Linked DNA regions of Homo sapiens: all the other regions are reported to be linked to region 1. The links are microRNA targets in miRTarBase. Many come from high-throughput screens and were not tested one by one. Region 1 holds a microRNA gene; each other region holds the end of a gene's coding sequence.

What was found. Region 1 holds the annotated microRNA hsa-miR-193a-3p (AACUGGCCUACAAAGUCCCAGU, at 2,004-2,025, shown strand). A microRNA usually pairs through its seed, bases 2 to 8, with sites in the 3' UTR of a target mRNA and lowers its output. Matches are read on the target gene's strand: a 7mer-m8 pairs with bases 2 to 8, a 7mer-A1 pairs with bases 2 to 7 and ends in A, and an 8mer does both.
Region 2: miRTarBase lists TGFB2 as a target of hsa-miR-193a-3p. Seed matches in the 3' UTR shown: 8mer at 1,649-1,656.
Region 3: the mRNA of EBAG9 is a reported target of hsa-miR-193a-3p. Seed matches in the 3' UTR shown: 7mer-A1 at 603-609.
Region 4: the mRNA of RGMA is a reported target of hsa-miR-193a-3p. Seed matches in the 3' UTR shown: 8mer at 2,217-2,224.

The regions. Positions count from the first base shown.
Region 1 is chr17:31,558,047-31,561,177 of GRCh38, forward strand. MIR193A (microRNA 193a) reads left to right here and starts at 1,950; the gene lies at 1,950-2,037. RefSeq lists a silencer at 732-1,221 and an enhancer at 963-1,753.
Region 2 is chr1:218,441,079-218,444,189 of GRCh38, reverse strand. It overlaps TGFB2 (transforming growth factor beta 2), which reads right to left. Exons shown (of 7, transcript NM_003238.6): 7 at 1-2,986. The coding sequence ends at 2,828. TGFB2-OT1 (TGFB2 overlapping transcript 1) reads right to left here and starts at 1,564. Exons shown (of 1, transcript NR_125715.1): 1 at 195-1,564.
Region 3 is chr8:109,563,979-109,567,109 of GRCh38, forward strand. It overlaps EBAG9 (estrogen receptor binding site associated antigen 9), which reads left to right. Exons shown (of 7, transcript NM_004215.5): 7 at 461-2,018. The coding sequence ends at 581. Among named protein-coding and RNA genes, the nearest start is that of EBAG9, 25 kb to the left of the region's middle.
Region 4 is chr15:93,042,207-93,045,337 of GRCh38, forward strand. RGMA (repulsive guidance molecule BMP co-receptor a) reads right to left here. Exons shown (of 4, transcript NM_020211.3): 4 at 1-3,131. The coding sequence ends at 2,792. Among named protein-coding and RNA genes, the nearest start is that of RGMA, 45 kb to the right of the region's middle.

The DNA.
Region 1 (3,131 bases):
TTTTTTAACTTTTTGTAAAGACAGAGTCTCACTATGTTCCCAGGCTGGTCTCAAACTCCTGGGCTCAAGCAATCCTGCCTTGGCCTCCCAAAGTGCTGGGATTACAGGTGTGCGCCACCGTGCCCAGCCTCATAGTGAGATTTAAAGGCATGATCTGGGTTGGTGAGGCCAGGAAAGAGAAGGCAGGAACATAGCTAATATCTATGTCGGGACACAAACAGATATGTCACGTTATTTTCTTTAAATGGCTCCAAATCTCGACCTGAAGAGGTTGGGAAACTCAACCTCAGTGGTTATTTGGGCTTCCCCATCACCCACGGTGCCTGGAATCCTGGCCATCTTGAGGCTGGGGATCTTGGTAGAGGCCTGGTTCAGGTCCCAGAGGAGACACGCAGTTACTCTCCCACATCCTGGCGTCTCCGGAGAGACAGTGGGGCAGCAGGTCTCCACCAAGGGGATTCCACTGACCTCCCACCCCTCGCTAATCTTGGGACAGCTCTTACTCAGCCTCAAAGCTTTTCTGTCCCACTCCTTTTCCACAGTCTCCCTAAAGGAACTCAGCTTTTCAAACAGCACAGCCAGGAAGAGAGGTTGTCTGCAGGCCGCTGGAACTGGGAGTTGAAAGCACGAAATTTTAACATCTCAAGAAAGTATGCTGCCCGGTACTATGCTTGGCACTTTAATTTATAATCTTTGCCACCAAAGCCCTGCCAGAAGTGCCCGGCGGCTCCAGGTTCTAGATGGGGAAGTTGAGGCCGGCGGCAGGCGCGCTCCACCGGGCGGGGGCGCGGCCCGGGAGCGGAGCGGCCGGCAGGGGGCTCCCCGCGCCGGTCTCCGCGGGAGGAAGCGCTGGCAGCTGCTCGGACGGGTCAAAGGAGGAAAAGGGAAAATTACTGGGCTCCGGGGCGGGAAGGACTGCGTGACTGGGAGGAAGGCACTCCAGACTGTCGAGTAGGGCCGCCCGCGTCGGGACCCCATCCCCGGGGCAGTGCGGGCCACCCGGGACCTGGGAACCCGGGCCACCCCCCACCGCCGTCAGGGTCTCTCCCGCCGGTGCCGCAGGCTGGAGCGGGCGTCGCGGCCGGGGGCGGTGCCGCCTAGGGGCGGGCGAAGGGCGGGCCGGGGCGGGGCGCCGTCCGCTCGGCTCCGGGAGGCGGTGCGGGCGGGCGCTGGCCGCGTCCGCCCGCCGGGAGCCGCGGGGCGCGCAGCCTTCCTGATGTGTCACCAGCACGTGGAGCCAGGTCGGGCCGCGGCGAGCAAGCCGACCCCCCCAACTTTCGAGGGGTCTCGCCGCCCCGCTCCTCTCCCGGCTTCGTCGGGCTCGCTCTCCTAGCGGAGGGGGCGGCGGCGGCCCCCAGGTCCCGGGCAGGTCGAGCGAGGCCACGGCCCCCGGCCAGGAGTTCGAGGGGCTCCCGGAACGTCGGGGCGCGGGCCCCGGCTAGCGGCTATGGCCCCCGTGCCCAGGCAGCGGTGCGGGCTCGGCCTTGCGGGAGGGTGCGGCCTGCTGCGAGAGGTCGGCCACGGCTCCTGCCCCGCGCCCCGCGCCCCTCGCCCGCCGAGCTGAGCGCAGGTAACCGAGGCAGAGCGGAGCTGGGCCTCGCAGGCGCGGCGTGGGAGCGTGGCGAAGTTTCTCGGCGCATAACTCTTGCGCCCCACTCGGGAGTGGGGCTGCGGTGGGGAGGCTTTGGTCCCCGCACCTCCCCCTCCCCCAGCGCTGTCCCTCGGCCTGAGCCGAGGCGGCCCGGGGGTGGCGTGGAGGCCGCCGAGCGTCGTGTAACCCTTGGAGGGCTGGGTTTGGAGCCCGCGACCCGAGGTCGGGCGGGGCGGTGGACTTTCCCGGGGAACGCCGCCTGAGGGACACCCAGAGCTTCGGCGGAGCGGAGCGCGGTGCACAGAGCCGGCGACCGGACCCAGCCCCGGGAAGCCCGTCGGGGACGCACCCCGAACTCCGAGGATGGGAGCTGAGGGCTGGGTCTTTGCGGGCGAGATGAGGGTGTCGGATCAACTGGCCTACAAAGTCCCAGTTCTCGGCCCCCGGGACCAGCGTCTTCTCCCCGGTCCTCGCCCCAGGCCGGCTTCCTCCCGGGCTGGCGTGCGCTCCGGCCAGGCTGCCTCTCAGGTCCACGCTGGAGAAGGAGTGGTGAGGTGCGCTCGCCCCGGCTGCGTGCGGTGATTCGGGAAATCCCCGCACTTCGCTGGAGAAATAGCGACGCTCTCGGAAGTGTGAGTCGGTCACTGCTTGGGGTCCGTACCCTTTGGGCAGACGTGGACCGCGCCCCGGCGACCTGGGTTGAGTGGACAGACGGGACCCGGCTTACCCATGGGCCAAGCCCTGCCACTTACCGAGGCCTGCCCTGCTGTGCTTTCCAGGGCGGCAACCTTGAGCTTGGGGGTGGGGAGAACGGGGCCTGACTTCTAGAATTGCCCCTGGGGAGGTGGGAAGCGGAGGTTTGGCCCGGTGGCGCAGGAAGCCCCTGTTCCTCTCCCAAACACCATTTCATTAAAGATGGATCTTTGTGGATGTGTTCCCAATGGCCGGTCTTTTGTTCCCTGACCGATGCAACATAATGTGGACCCACTCTAGTCCTCTTCAAGTTTTTTGCTGGAATTCCTTAAACTCTCCTTTAAAGTCTCTTATCTATTCCTCTAGTGCGTTTGCTTCTACTCCCCGAAAACAAAAACCCACCAACCCCTGAAACCTCGGGTTTGCCTGGTGTTGGAACTTTGGTTATTTGTCCTTTGTTTGTGTTGTGTTTTTGGCTCTTGGCCGTGGAAAAACATCTGGGGACATGCAGTGAGGTGACTTGAACTGTGTGAAGAACTGGTTGACAAAATAGGGAACGTCTGGTCCCTGTCTTACTTGGCTTTGGAAAACAGGAGAGGTTTTTAGGAGCTGGGAGGAGGGAGGGTGAGAGGGAGGAACCATCACGGCCAGGTTGGCCCACCCCTTGCCAGGTCGTGTAAAAACCCATTCAAGAGGCATTTTCCCACAGGCTCCCTGCCTCTGCAGGCCACGTGTAGAGTAGTCCTTTGCAGGCGTCCTGCCCATACTGTTGTCCCTGTTTTGGGGGCATGTGGGAGCCAACACAGGGGAGTCAGGTGTGTGGTAGGCAGTCAGGTGTGTTTTGGGG
Region 2 (3,111 bases), not on the chromosome of region 1:
TTCTTCTATCCTTGATGGATATGGCCTGACTCTTGTGCTTTAAAGCATGACTTCTGAAGTGACTGTCCTTAAGGGAGAAAGCACAGAGGGCAATCGGAAAGGTGGTATGACTTTTCCAGCTTGAGATAGTCTTATTGCATCACAGGTGTTTTCTAGACTCGATGATGGTACTGATAGGAAAAAGACATCCACATATCATCGAAATAATTTATTTACCACTAGAGCACCACAAAAACAGACATACATCGTGTTAAAATACAGCGTAATTGGTCATCAAAATACAAAACAGCTAATCTTATATTCCATTTTTTAACCATGCCAACGATCAAATTGTACTGCTGATTAACACAAAAATAATTGCTGCCCACTTGCATACTAGCACTTCACCCCTTCCTTGCCACCTCCACCCCCCTCCCATGGCAATATTTACTTATGGGAAATAAAGACCTTACAGAACCCCCAAATTAAAAAAAAAAAAAACAGATTCAAGAGATCTTAAAATAGAGCATTTAAAATATTATCAGTGCATTCATGAGGAAAGACAAAATAATACAAAACAAAATGTCATCCTATCTGAGAGGAAAATGTCTGCAGAAATAAAAGTGATTTACACATAATAGAAAAGTGGAAGACAAAAAAATAATCAACACACACTCAAATCTGGGATTGGGTTACATCCAACACAAGGGCTGTTTACTATTATGGCATCCCATCTCTTGCTTTTCCAGTTTTCAAACTTGCAAATCCAATTCTTTAATTAATGGTCAGGAAATTCCAAAAAAGAAGTAGACCATATCAAACAACTTCACTTTGGATTCCCGCCTCCTTATGCTGCTCTTTAGGTGAAACTGCAAATATTCCATTGCTTTGCCTATTAATTTTTATTTTAAAGCTAAATAAGCGACAAGTGATAAACTGACATATTCTATTAACCCCAGCATGAGGATACCTCTTCTGCAATGATGTGGCAAATTATTTATTAAAGCAAGGTAAACTTTAGCCTCAGATATAGATAACTCTCACTCAGAGGAAAGAAAGAATTTTTTGATCATAGGAAAAATTGGCTTGTGCCTTTTCCCCTTCAAAGAACATTTATAAAAACCTTATAACTTCAGTGAAATACACAAAATGACTTATGCTGACCTGGACTTTTTTCCCCTTTTGAAAAATCGACTAAAATATATATCTTTCAATTTCCCCCTGAATATTAAAAACCTGACTAAAGAAAAAGATGTTTCCTATGAAGTGTCCTCTTTGTAATAACAATAGGATTTTACAAAAATATTGATTAAACCAAGGTAGAGAAACTTTTCTTAACTCAATAAAGATTCTGAGTTTTAGTTAGAACCCTAAATCCTTGCTAAAATGAAAACATTTTACTTCAATTTTCTATGTATCTATAACATTCCTCCTTTTCCTAACATAAAAATTTGTTAACGTCTGACTTGGTTAGTAATGATGCTTGGAAGATGAAGACCACTGAACTCGAACCCATCTTTTCTGTGAAACAAAAAAAAGAAAAGACAAGTGGACCCAGGTAGCTTATGTCATAATAATGAAAGAAACACAAAGCACAAGTAGGGCAAATGTTATTAAAAAAAAAATGCATTTGTAGTGCAAGTCAAACTATAGGGGCTTTACTCAAAAGTACTGGCCAGCTAAAAGAAACATACATTTGTGAGTGATCATTAAAAAGAGCCCAAATTTAAGTCAATCTAAATCATAGTTGACATTATTACAGAATATAAAAAATATGGTAAAAATTTACACATTACACATAAAGTAGTTAATGTTTTGATTTAATAGTTTGCAAAAGAGATCTGCAGATGTGTTTTCAATTATGCTGGCTTCTATATCCATCTATTTTAATAATATAGGTATGGTTACATATACCAAAACAAAGGAAAAAACCTATAGCATAGCTATACAGCAATATTTTAAGGTCTGAAGTTTGACCAGTACATGTCAAAACATTTCAACATTTCACTGGTTTACTAAACTGACAAAGAACCATTTACAATTAAAAAGAAAAAAAAAAACTTACAGACTTATTCTGACTGAAAGTTTCTTTTATTAACAGTCTTTTTAGTTTTTGGACCTTACAAGAAGCTTCCTTAGGCAGCTGATACATAACATGTGTTTTCAGGGTCTTTATCTTAATGCAGACTTTCTCGGTCATATAATAACTCACTTGGGTTTTCATCCCATTAATATGACCTCTTTTTTTCTGGCTCGTTTGAGTTCAAGTTCCTTAAGCCATCCATGAGTTTCTGGCAAAGTATTTGGTCTCCACTTTATACACCTGTTTTATTTTCCAAGGGCAATGAAACGTTCATTATATAGTAACACACAATAAATAACTCACTGTTAACTCTAAGAGTAAGAATGGGAAGGGTGCCTATTGCATAGCAATACAGAAAAATCAAGTGAGGCGCGGGATAGGAACGGTACGTACAGCAACTCCACTTAATGGGATTTTCCTGTTTGTTGTTGTTGTTGTTGTTGTCGTTGTTCACATAATTAACACTAATAAATTCTTCCAGTGTTTATTTTTTTCTTTAAAAAAAATTTGCTTCTTGTCTCTCTCACTTACAAAGTAGGTGAAATGTAGAATAAGGCCTTCAACTTTTTTTGTGTCAGATGCCAGTTTTAACAAACAGAACACAAACTTCCAAAGTGTCTGAACTAGTACCGCCTTTTCAAAAATTTTTTAACACTGATGAACCAAGGCTCTCTTATGTTTTCTTGTTACAAGCATCATCGTTGTCGTCGTCATCATCATTATCATCATCATTGTCATTTTGGTCTTGCCACTTTTCCAAGAATTTTAGCTGCATTTGCAAGACTTTACAATCATATTAGAAAGCTGTTCAATCTTGGGTGTTTTGCCAATGTAGTAGAGAATGGTTAGAGGTTCTAAATCTTGGGACACGCAGCAAGGAGAAGCAGATGCTTCTGGATTTATGGTATTATATAAGCTCAGGACCTGAAAGGACACAGGAGAGGAGAGACAACATAGGGAAAGACGGAAAATGAACGCAATTCGTTTTTAAAAAGAATTCCACATTGTTAGCAGTCACAGCACTGAGTAGGCAATTTAAAATTATTTTT
Region 3 (3,131 bases), not on the chromosome of region 1:
ATGCACTTTAAAAACTGGCTGTTTGTAACTACTATAATAACAGGAGATTATCAAGCTCAATATCAAGCTTTTCTGAATGGTATCCCCAGAAAAAGATGTGGTTCAATGGAAGTATTGTTTTACAAAATGGAGATAATCTAAATAAGAAGTGTCAGAAGATGTGAGTTCTTATCCCTGTACTTAATCCTATGACTTCGGGCAAGTCACTTAGCCTTTATGCCTCATTTTACTTATTTGTAAAATAGAGATAATATTTCTTCTATTTCACAAGTCACGTTCTAAGGACTAAGAGAAATCCTGTTTTTGAAAATATTTGGAATTTTCAAATTAGTGAGAAAATTTTAAGACTTTCAACATTTTATTTGGTGATAATAAAAAGGCACTGCTATTTCTTTCTAGAATTTATTTGCCATTTTACCTGTTTGGTATTTTCTAAAAGTAAAAGTATGTTTCTTTTCAGACAGCAGAAACTAGCAGACAGAGAAAAGAGAGCAGCCGAACAACAAAGGAAGAAAATGGAAAAGGAAGCACAACGGCTAATGAAGAAGGAACAAAACAAAATTGGTGTGAAACTTTCATAACACATGTTCAAATTTTATCATGCCAGTAGGAGAAATCTCAGCTCCACAACCCAAGCAACATTTGTATGGATTTAAGAGTATTTTAAGAAGACATACTGCTTGATTTTAATACATTGATCAGGCCATCCAGGACACCACGATTCTCCCAAAGTACCTTGAACTCTTAGTGATTGAGACTCAAAAAAACAAAAAAGACTTGAGACAATGTTTTCTTCAACATGCTCCAAATATAAGACATTTGTTTGCTGTACAGAAAGTATCACAAATGGAATATATCAGTACCTCTCAAGCTAGTGTTTCTAGCTAAATAAATGGGTGTATATAATTTTATGGTGGAAAAGAACTGTACTGTCTGTTATGATTTCCTTCAATGTGCATAATGATAAAATAAATAATTTTAATATTCTTTTGTTTCCATGGTTACCTGACCTAAATTAGATAAATTGTAGGGCTTTAGCTTTCTTATTTTTGTCAAAAGTTGGTGTTGACATACATTCCCTCTAATTTGAACTGGTATTGTTTACGTTTGATACAACATTAAGGAATTTGATGATTTTCATTTCATGAAAATGACATTAAATGCAATAATTTTACTTATCATAAACATTTTGTACATCATTATTTTCTTTTGGATTAGTGTTGTCATACATGTAATTTATATCACATGTATAAACATTGAAAATCAACTAAAATGACATTTGTTCTACATTATAACTTGTGAGTTTCAAGAACTAGTATTAGTAGTTTTTTCCTTTCATTATAGATTGTAAGATGTTGTGGTATCTTTGAGTGCCTTAGTTCTTCCTTCCTCCCAAAAGCCATTAATTTACAAATGCTTAAAGCCATCAGGTCAAATATTTCAAAGCCTTTAGATGATTTCTGTACTAGCTTTAGATGTCTGACGTTATGTAGGTTACCTGTGTTCTTGGCTAGGAAAACATTATTGATTCATTAAATCATAAAGGTGGGAATAATAATCTTTTATTTATGATGTTGATTGGCTCCAAAATAGTCTTAAGGAAATAAATACTGGGTCTGTAGGGGAAAAGTAGACTTCATAGTTTAAAATCCCATTAACCTTTTCACCGCAGTTGAAATGCATCCAGCCTGATTTTCCTATCATTTTGGAATTTTTAAGGATTTTTACTTTCTTAAGTTACTGCCTAGAATCAACATTCGGTGAGATTTTGAAATGTCATAGATACTGTACAGGCCAAACCTTACTAATTTATTTTACTTAAAGTGATATTTTATAGAAAAATCATAAGTTATACAATGAGAACCCTTTAAGCCCTTAGCCTAAGCTTTCAGACTAAATGTGATTATAGAATAAGATGAAAGTTAACTTTGGTACAGAGCTTTTTATAGCCCCAAATTATATTTCCAGTTATTATATTCATTAGAATTTCTGCTAATAAACTCCCAACTTAAATAGAATTGGGCTCAAAGTTTTAATAATGTATTCTCTTCCTTCTTTGTATTTATAGTTAGTTATTATGGGAATACAACATATCTTCTCTAAATTTGGAATTCATAAAGGATAACTTCCTTTAGCTCAATTACTTGTATTGCTTTTCCCTAGTAGCTGAAAAGTATTTAAGTTTGGTTTGGTCATGATTTTCATGTGTTTGAGGTTTTTGTTGTTGTTGTTTGGCTTTTTGGTTTTTGATTATTTAAAAATAAAGACATTAGCAATTATAGTTAGTATGATTAGGAAGAAATAGATTTTTCTTGTGGAAAGAATAGATAACAATTCTGGAATTTATTTTATCTCTATTGATGTGTAAACTAAATTCCTGTATTAACTTGGGTATATTTTGGTCCCAAAAGTAGTCACTGAGTTAAATGCATATGACAAACAATTCATGGTAGCATACTGTCTCTTTTAGCTACTAAATTTATGGTTTCTATTTTTTGTTTTCTTGATTTCAATAAAGAATTGTCAGTTTTAGATGCTTATTAGAAATAATAAGAAATACTGGTAGGCATAGATAGAATTAGTGAAGTTTTAACCATTAGCAAAATCGTGCATTTCATGTACTGAGATAACAAGTAATCAAAGACATGGGAAACTTACCTTGTGTTTTTTTTTGTTTTGTTTTGTTTTTTATGTAGTAATTTCATGGTTTCTAGCCATTTCCTCTTCTTAAGCTTTACCTAGGGATATTCTCTACTTGGCTCTTCTTTTAGTATAGCATGTTTAATTGAGTTGACATTTTAGAACTGAAAATTTGAAATTCTGCATCCGAATTTCTCAGTTTTGACATGCACTTGCCTCTGGGTGATTATTTCTAGGTTGTTTCTACATGAAGATTGGTGATTGGGCAGAAGGTACCTACAGAAACCAGCATCTGGATCGAGCTTCCAACACCACTCTACAAGCTACCACCATGGCGTAAACCTAACCATAGTCAGTGTTCCAAAAAGCCTGAATTTTGTTGAGAATGGTATGTTTACTAAAGGATGGTTTGAGCCAGACAGAGCTAACATACTCATCTTGTTTGATCCTATGAAGTTCAGATTTGGAATAACCAACGATGGTTTTCATAC
Region 4 (3,131 bases), not on the chromosome of region 1:
TGGTCTGCCTGGGATTAATGAACTTGGCCACTCTTGGGACTCCTCCCCTTGCTAGCCTGCAGGTTCACCTCTCCCAAGAGTCCAGGGTCTGTATCGCCCCTTTCCTTCTCCCCTTAACTGATTTATCTTGCTTTGGGATAATACCACCCCCTCCCTCCCCACGACCAGACAAGCCATGTGTGCCCCGCCCTCTCCTAAGCAATTTACAGGAATGAACTCCTGACTCTCCAAACAACTGTATGGGACAGGCACCCCCCCATCTTCCAGAGAACAGCATGCAGGCTCAGAGAGGTGAAGTGACTTGCCCATGGTCACACTGCTGGGGAGGTGGAGAAGCCAGGATGTAGGCTGGCTTAACTGTGCTGCTATTCTGCCTCATGGCATTTAGTTTGAAGAGAAGGGGCTTCAGGACAATACTAACCTAGGTGCACAGGTTGTCCTTCCCGTTGCTAAGGAGCCCTAGGCAAGTCAGTTAATCTCAGAGTCTGTTTCATCGGCAAAATGGGCCTGAATTTCTTCCTGATTCACTGGGTAGTTTGTACAGATGAAATGTGATCACAGCTGCCAATAAACCTGGTCCCACAGTGACGTGGACAGCAGCCTCCTGCAGCACCACTGCTCCGCCCGGGCTATGAGAAGATGGGCACTGGCAGGGAGGGTGGCAGGCAGTCCCAACAGCTGGGGCTCCAGGCTGATAGCAGTGGCTGAGAGGGAGTCATCCCAGATCTCAGGCTATCCCACCCATCTCATCCCAGAGGGCACCATATGTCTCTCCACCACATAGTCACCTGTCTCCCTGACTGTGTTCCACTGTCACTAGAACAAGAGGATCTGGGCCTGCCAAGCTCCAAAGACAGCTCATCGTGAGGAGGAAAAGTGACTTTACAAAAGCAATGTGTGGTGGCTGTTAAACTGCTGCATCTTCTATCCGCCTTCACACCATTCTCACGCACATACACATGCGCACACACATGCCTACATGCACACACATAGGCATGGGCGCACACACAGGCATGCGCACACATGCGTACATGCACGCACACAGGCACGCACACACACAGGCATGCATACACACATGCGCGCACACACACATGCGCGCACACACACACACTTGCTGCAGGGGATCCCACCACCAAAGTCCATCCTCCACCCGCCTCAAGGGAGCCAAAGTCTGTTCAGAAAACAAACTCCAACACGTCTAAAAGAAAATAACAAAAAAACCAAACTTTACTTGCATTTAGCCATTAATAAATAATTTACAGTATGTACACGCGGTGACACTCCACACAGGTCGCAGACACGTGGACGCAGTGAGGGGTCCCCACTTCCAAGCAGAACGTGAGCAAACACAACCAAAATAAAGTGCTTCACTTTTTACTTCCAACATAGGGACCAACTAAAACCAGCAGGGAGAGGGAGGGGCCGGGCCCCGAGCGCCCTCCCACCCGCCCACACACGGTTCTGGCAGAGGGAGCAGGACCTCTTGGAGGGAGGGGGAGACACACGTTCTGCAGCCTCCTGGCCAGTGTATGAGAGGTCCCTGGGGAACAGCAGAGGGGCTGCCGATGGGTGGGTAGGGTGTGGAGCTGTAGGGCTGCTGGCAGGATCACCCTCCAGGGCCTGGCTGCACTTTTGGGAGTGAAGCCTGGCTTTGTGCTGTGGGCACAGCAGCACAGGTGGGACTGTTCTGGGCCCCTGGATGAGCACCCTGGGCTGAAATGAGGCGGGAGCCAGCGGCAAGTCTCTCCTGGCTGTGTGGCCACAGGGCTTAAGGGAAGAGATTAGAGGTTGAAGACCCTGCCAGGGATGCTCAGAGCTGAGAGTCCTAAGACCCTGCTCCTCTCCCCAGACTCCAGACGTGGATGGACCGGGCTGGGGGCTCTTGGGGTTGTGAGGAGGAAGCAGAGGATCAGGGCAGGCCAGCTGGCCCCATCCACTGGGTCTCCTGCCACACCCTGGGGCCCAGGCACCCCTGCCCAGGAGCTCTTGCATCTGCAGGAGAGAGAGGAACAGAAGTCAAGGATCTCTTCTCTGTTTAGACATTTAGAACCAAGCACTTCGACTTTCTAAGCACAGGGTGGAAGGGGCAGGGGCCCAGGCCAGAGACGGGCAGCTGAGCAGGTGCCTGAAAACCGGGACCTGCACTGGTACCCACAGCAGCCAGGTGAACATGGGCAGGGAGGCCACAGGCCAGAAGGCACCAGGCGGGCACGACCTACTGGCCAAAAGGTTCCAGCAGTCTGCTAAGGTGCCAAGCAGCGCCCCGGGGTTGCCCTGCCTGGGGCCAAGCCCCAAGGATGCCTCCCTGTGTGGCTGGGGTGTCCCCGCTGGCCTAGGGGGATCGAGTGTGCTCTCGTGTAAGAGTGTGTGCGTGCGTGTGGCGGGCACAGGGGGCCCCACGGATCGGCGAGCAGCAGTCGGCCGGGCCTTTCAGTGCATTGCGAGGGGGAAGGAGCTGACTCTGACGGTTCCCAGTGTGTCTCTGGTGGGGGTGGGGGGCTTCAGCCTGAGGGGATGTTTCACACATTCACACTGCAGGGGCGGGGCGAGGGGAGCTGCTCTCCCTCTCACACAGCTCTACTGTCAAACATCATGGCACCAGTCACCACAACCTTGTCACGTGCACTAGAAGGGGAGGGGTCCGTGCCTGAGCCCTTGGCAGCAGGCGGTCCCTGGCGTTCTGCGGGGCCATGGTGGACACGCCAGGAGATCTGCACCCCGTGGGCGGTCCCAGCCCACACATGGGGAAGCCGAGAGGACGGAGCCCGCGCCTCCCTCCACATCTACGCGTCTAGCAGAACACAGGGAGCAGGGCCAGGAGCGGGACGAGGGCGCCCAGGAGGGGCCGGGGGGCCAGGGGCAGCCCCGCAGCCGCCCTGCCTGGCAGGTCCCGAGTCCTCTCATACAGGTGCAGTTTGTCTTTGTTGGAGTGGAGCATCTTGACATCCTCCAACGCGTAGTAGGCGGCCAGTGTGAAGTTCACGTCGCCCGTGGTGAGGAGGTCGAAGACGCAGGCCTGGTAGTACAGGTCCTCCACCGGCAGCTTCTCCTTGCACTTGGCCACGGCTGTCTCGTATGGGAAGGTCTCGGGGGCTGTGGGTGCAGGGCTGGCGGCTGCCAGCCTGCGGGCA